Linked DNA regions of Homo sapiens: region 2 is linked to region 1. The links come from fine-mapping of genetic effects on gene expression. A gene starts in region 1. The other region holds a variant in brackets. All regions are shown on one strand. Distances are from middle to middle. Region 1 holds the start of UROD (uroporphyrinogen decarboxylase). Region 2 has its middle 23 kb from the start of LINC01144.

What was found.
Region 2: its variant is fine-mapped to the expression of UROD in monocytes after LPS (Quach 2016, PIP 0.95). The same link has a PIP of 0.9 or more in monocytes after R848.

Annotation. Positions count from the first base shown.
Region 1 is chr1:45,010,557-45,013,464 of GRCh38, forward strand. It overlaps UROD (uroporphyrinogen decarboxylase), which reads left to right and starts at 1,698. Exons shown (of 10, transcript NM_000374.5): 1 at 1,698-1,729; 2 at 2,351-2,463; 3 at 2,580-2,659; 4 at 2,736-2,798. The coding sequence starts at 1,710. HECTD3 (HECT domain E3 ubiquitin protein ligase 3) reads right to left here and starts at 768. Exons shown (of 21, transcript NM_024602.6): 1 at 333-768; 2 at 1-150. The coding sequence starts at 701. RefSeq lists silencers at 435-604, 685-814 and enhancers at 1,575-1,624, 1,665-1,794.
Region 2 is chr1:45,279,262-45,282,169 of GRCh38, forward strand. No RefSeq gene overlaps it. Among named protein-coding and RNA genes, the nearest start is that of LINC01144, 23 kb to the right of the region's middle. The variant CT/C (reference allele first, on the strand shown) is at 1,204.

The sequences.
Region 1 (2,908 bases):
CCGATAATCCACGCCAAAGAGCTGCTGCTGCCGCTGGAGGTGGTTGGGAGTGTCGATGGGTACCAGGCGGGCTCCGCCCTCCGCCGGGCGGCACACCAGCAGCCAGCCTTCCTGCAGCCCGCAGTCGCCCAGGTGCTCTGCCAGCTGCTCCTGCCGGGACGCGTAGGATGGGGACAGCCGTCAGGGAACTGCCCAGCCGCCTGTCGTGCCCAGCCCAGGGCAAAGGGCGCCGAACGCAATGCCAACTCAATACAGGGGAGAAAAGGCAAACAGCCAGAGGTTTCTCTGGCCCCAGGGGTCTTTTACCGGGTCCTGGGCAGGGAAGAGCGCACCTTTGTCAGCTTCACCCAGAGCCCGTGGCCATTGCACAGCTCCTCGCCCGTGGTGCGCACGCAGGCGCCGCGCCGGAGCTCAATGCTGTCGCGGGCGGCGCGGAGGGGCCCGGAGCCGGTACCGGGGGCTGGGCCTGCGGCGCCCACACGCAGCCCCAGGCCCTCTGCCTCCCACACCGGCAGAAGCACGCGCGACGGTCCCGCTGGGTCCTTGTAAAGCTTGTAGAGCACCTCTCGCGGCACGAAAGCCAGCGCTGCTGGCAGCGGCCGCCCGGCGCGGAGGCTCCGCGCTGCCTCTGCCAAGAAGCGCACGCGGCCCAGCAGCTGCCGGGGGGACTCCAGCACCGCGCCCGGGCCAGGACCCGCCATGGCGAAGTGGCGGAGGTGAGCACCTAGAGGCGACCCTGCCCGGGGAACAGCTGGCGCGACCGCGGACAGAGCTTCCCACCACGCCCTTCCCCGCCTTTGGCCAGCCTTTGCCGTATGTTCTGGACTAAGCGCACCCCAGCTCTCACTGTATTGGACTGTGTACTCCCACACTCAACCATATTACTTATCTCTGTGCCACCCTAACCCAGCCGACCAAACCCAAGATTGGTGATTGCTACCTGATCAATCTCCCTCTCTCCATTTCCTTGTGACTACCATTTTATCTCTACTGCTACTACCCTCATTCAAGTCACCATTCTAGCTAGCCTGGGTCATTGCCAACAGTCATTTTTCTGGTTCTTCGGCCTGCTGTTTTTCCTCCCACTCCCAGCGAATCTGCTGGACTCCCTATCCTATGGGTGGTGTGATTAAAGTGTTTGAGACAATGGCCCCTTCCCCTGCCACTGACAGGAGTCTTGAGTCATTAGGGTTGATTCTGTTTGTCACTCCTAATCCCAAGGACACTGGAGATCATTATTCATTTTAATGTGATTGCTGATTTCTGTTTCCCCAGTCTTGTAGCTCCTTAAAGGCTGGGGCTGTCTTGAGCAGAGCTAACCTCTGCACCTACTATAGGTCCAGGCTATAGTATGGACCTGGCTGGATAAGACTGTTGGTATCATGAGTGGGACTTGCGCCAAGCCTCCGGATACCCAGACTGTCAGATGAGAACAAATTCCTCATGTCACCGTAAGATACATTTACAGCGGAGTTTTCTTTTGGGCCTTTGTTGTTGCGTCGCTACAGCAAACTTTACGGTGAAAAAAGGTAGGGGTCCTACGGGCAGCAGCCAGGGCAGCCCTGGAGCTGTCGCTGGAGTCCGATCATGTGATCTTCAACATGGCGACGCTCTTGGTTCCCTACAGAAAGGGGCGGAGCCTGGACTGGGGGGCAGGCTCAGATTCAGGTTAAATTGTGGATTGAGCTCGCAGTTACAGACAGCTGACCATGGAAGCGAATGGGTTGGGGTGAGTTCTCCAGAGCACGCGGTGTGGCTAGCCGGGCTTCTAATTTGAGTCTTCCAACTCAGGACTCTATCCCTCTACTCCCCTTTCCCCACCCTGGAGACCTCCCAACCTGAACTCCGTTAGCTGGGATCCTGAATCCTAAAACCATGGATTTTTGAGATGTTCATCCCAGGGCCTTAATTCAAGGGATGCCTCAGGATTTCCAACCAGGATCTCTATTCTGGGACCATCAACTCTGATCCCTCTTTATCCCCCAGCCTGGGTATTTCTCAGCCCCTGAACCAGCCCAGTGACATTCCCGTTTCTGAGGCTCACTAGTTCGAAGACCCCCAAACTATCCTTAGTGGGCCTTCATTCCCTCCCCCCAGTCCCTCTGGTTGCTTCGAGCTTGGAAGAGTAGAGACTAAGTGGAGGGAAGAGGCCCCAGGGCGGGCCCTTCTGGAGTTTGTGCACCACCTGATAGGCAGAGAGGAGGCGGAACGGGCGGAAAGCCAGGGTTTGGGAGCTGGCCTGGAGGAGGTAGATAGCGGTCCTGGACTGAATCGGCCTTATGAACCCGCGCTTTCCCCAGCCTCCAGCGTAGCATACTGACACCTACCCCCACCCCCACCTGATCGCCAGACCTCAGGGTTTTCCGGAGCTGAAGAATGACACATTCCTGCGAGCAGCCTGGGGAGAGGAAACAGACTACACTCCCGTTTGGTGCATGCGCCAGGCAGGCCGTTACTTACCAGGTAAGAGTCAGGGTCTGGAAATCTAGATAAAACTCCGGAGGGAGAAAAGTTTTCGAGGGGCAGGGGAGGGCTCTGGAGGGCCTCAAGGCTGAGCCCTGTCTTCCCTCTGTATGCAGAGTTTAGGGAAACCCGGGCTGCCCAGGACTTTTTCAGCACGTGTCGCTCTCCTGAGGCCTGCTGTGAACTGACTCTGCAGGTGAGGGGTCCACAAAAGAGGGAAAGATTTATGCCTTCAGTCTGCCACCTAGCAACCTGTCTCCTGTTTCCTACAGCCACTGCGTCGCTTCCCTCTGGATGCTGCCATCATTTTCTCCGACATCCTTGTTGTACCCCAGGTACCCACTCAAACCTGATCCTAGAATATAATCCAAGGACGCCTTGAAAATCCTTCTATCAGTCCAGTCAAGGTTTACAATAAGCACTTATCCTAACTGGATCGAGGGAA
Region 2 (2,908 bases), 270 kb after region 1:
TCACAAAAAAAAAACACCACAGACCAATATCCCTTATGAATATTGACACAGAAATTCTCAACAAAATACCAGTGAACCAAATTCAGCCACATATTAAAGGGATTATGTAACAGAAACAAATGGAATTTATTCCTGGAATGCTAGGATGGTTGAACATATGAAAATTGAAAAATGTTATATACCACACTAACAGAATGAAGGGAAGTAAAATACATGATCTGCTCAATTGATGCAGAGAAAACAACAGACAAAATTTGATACCCTTTCACGATAAAAAGCACTTGAAAAACTAAGAATGAAGGAAAACTACATCAACATAATTAAAACCATATATGAAAAACCCACAGGAAATAGCATACTCAGTGGAAAAAGACTGAAAGCTTTTCCTCTAAGATCAGGAACAAGACAAGATTCCCACTTTTTTTTTTTTCCAGATCTGCAGCAGGAAGGGATGCCCACTTTCACCATGTCTGTTTCACCACTTCTTTTCAGCATAATGGTGGAAGTTCTAGCCAGAGCAATTAGGCAAGAAAAAGAAAACGCATCCAAATTGGACAAGAGGAGTAAAATCATCTGTTTGCAAATAATGTGATTTTATATGTAGAAAACCCTAAAGATTTCACAAAAAACTGTTAGAACTAATAAATGAATCAACAAAGTAGCAGGATATACAGTCAATATGCAAAAGCACTTGCATTTCTATACACTGACAGTGAATAATCTGAAAAGGAAACTGGAAACAATTCCGTTTACAATGCTTAGGAACTAAGTTAACCAAAGGAGTGAAAGATTTATACAATGAAAACAGCAAAACATTGCTGAAAGAAATTAAAGAAGTTATAAATGGAAACACATCACGTGTTCACGTATTGGAAGACTTAATATTGTTAAATTTTCTGTACTACCCAAAGCAATCTACAGATTCAATGCAATCCTTATCAAAATCCCAATGACATTTTTAAATAGAAAAATGCATTTTAAAACTAATATAGGGGCCGGGTACAGTGGCTCATTCCTGTAATCATAGCACTTTGGAAGGCCAAGAGGGGAGAACCTCTTGAGGTGAGAAATTTGAGGCTGCAGTGAGCTATGATTGTGCCGCTGCATTCCAGCCTAGGTGTAGTGGCACAATCGTAGCTCACTGCAGACTCAAAGTGGCACAGCCATTATATCTAGGGATTTTCTTTCTTCCTTTTCTTTTTT[CT/C]TTTTTTTTTTTTTTTTTGTTGTTTTTTGAGACAGAGTCTCCCCTGTCTTCACTCTGGAGTGCAGTGGCACCATCTTGGCTCACTGCAACCTCCGCTTCCCAGGCTCAAGCTATCCTCCCACCCCTGTCTCTTAAGTAGCTTACAACAGAGCAAGACTCTGTCCATGAAAATATAAATAAATGGCTGGGTACGGTGGCTCACGCCTGTAATCCCAGCACTTTGGGAGGCCAAGGAGGATGGATCACCTGAGGTTAGGAGTTCAAGACCAGCCTGGCTAATGGGGCAAAATTCCATCTCTACTAAAAATACAAAAGTTAGCCAGGTGTGGTGGTGCGCACCTGTAGTCCCAGCTACTTGGGAGGTTGAGACAGGAGAATTGCTGAACCCAGGAGGCAGAGGTTGCAGTGAGCCGAGATCACGCCACTGCATCCCAGCCTGGGTGACAGAGTGAGACTCCGCCTCAAAAAAAATAAAAAATAAAATAAATAAATAAAAATTTTTAAAAATTCAGGCCAGAAGTGATGGCTTACACCTGTAATCCCAGCACTTTGGGAAGCTGAAGTGGGAGGATCACTGGAGGCCAAGAATTCAAAACCAGACTGGGCAACATAATGAGACTCTGTCTCCACAAAAAAACAAATACAAAATTAGCTGGGCATGGTGGTGGGTGTCTGTGGTCCCAGCTACTCTGGAGGCTGAAGTAGGAGGATCACTTGAGCCCAGGAGTTTGAGACTGCAGTGAGCCATGATCATGCTACTGCACTCCTGCTTGTGTTACAAAGCAAGACACAGTGTCAAAAAAAAAAAAAAAAAATTACTCAAGCCCTGTCCCACACAATGTGGAAGTCTGTGCTAAAAAACTTTGTGTTTTGTATATTCCTTGGAAAAATCTCGTGTTCCCCTTATCTCTGCTTCTCCTGTTCTCCAGCTCATGATGACTTCTCTATTTGACCTAAGGTTCTTCCTTGGACCTTCCCATCTTCTCATTTATTCTCCTCACTGACCCCCTCTCTCCAACTTTCTCAGGCCTATTCCCCCAGGCTGCCCCAAACTCCAAATTCCTCTCACTTCTTCCTTTCTTGAGCAGAGCAATTCTGCTCTCTTTATCTCATACCTCCCCCTCCCTTCCTTACCCCTCCCAAGAATCACTGGCTGTTTCCTCAATAAAAAGAACCACCTGGCCAGGCGCGGTGGCTCACGCCTGTAATCCCAGCACTTTGGGAGGCTGAGGTGGGTGGATCACTTGAGGTCAGGAGTTCAAGACCAGCCTGACCAACATGGTGAAACTCCATCTCTACTAAAAATACAAAATTATCTGGGCGTGGTGGCGCATGCCTGTAATCCCAGCTACTCGGGAGGCGGAGGCACGAGAATAGCTTGAACCCTGGAGGTGGAGGTTGCAGTGAGTGAGATCATGCCATTGCACTCCAGCCTCGGCAACAAGAGCGAAAAAACAAACAAAAAAGAACCACCTATCCGTGCTGCGAATGTTGTCCCTTCCCTGGAAGTGATAATAAGCCAGGAATTATCTTTCTGAAGAGCAACATTTTTCCTTCCCACTATTACATAGAGAAAATCATTCCTTTACCATCACCATCTGCCCATCCTCTGTGCCTCTCCATACACTGTTCCCTCTGCCTGGAACACCCCACACAATCCCCAGCACCGTCACTTGGCCCATCCATCATACGAAACTTCAAGTC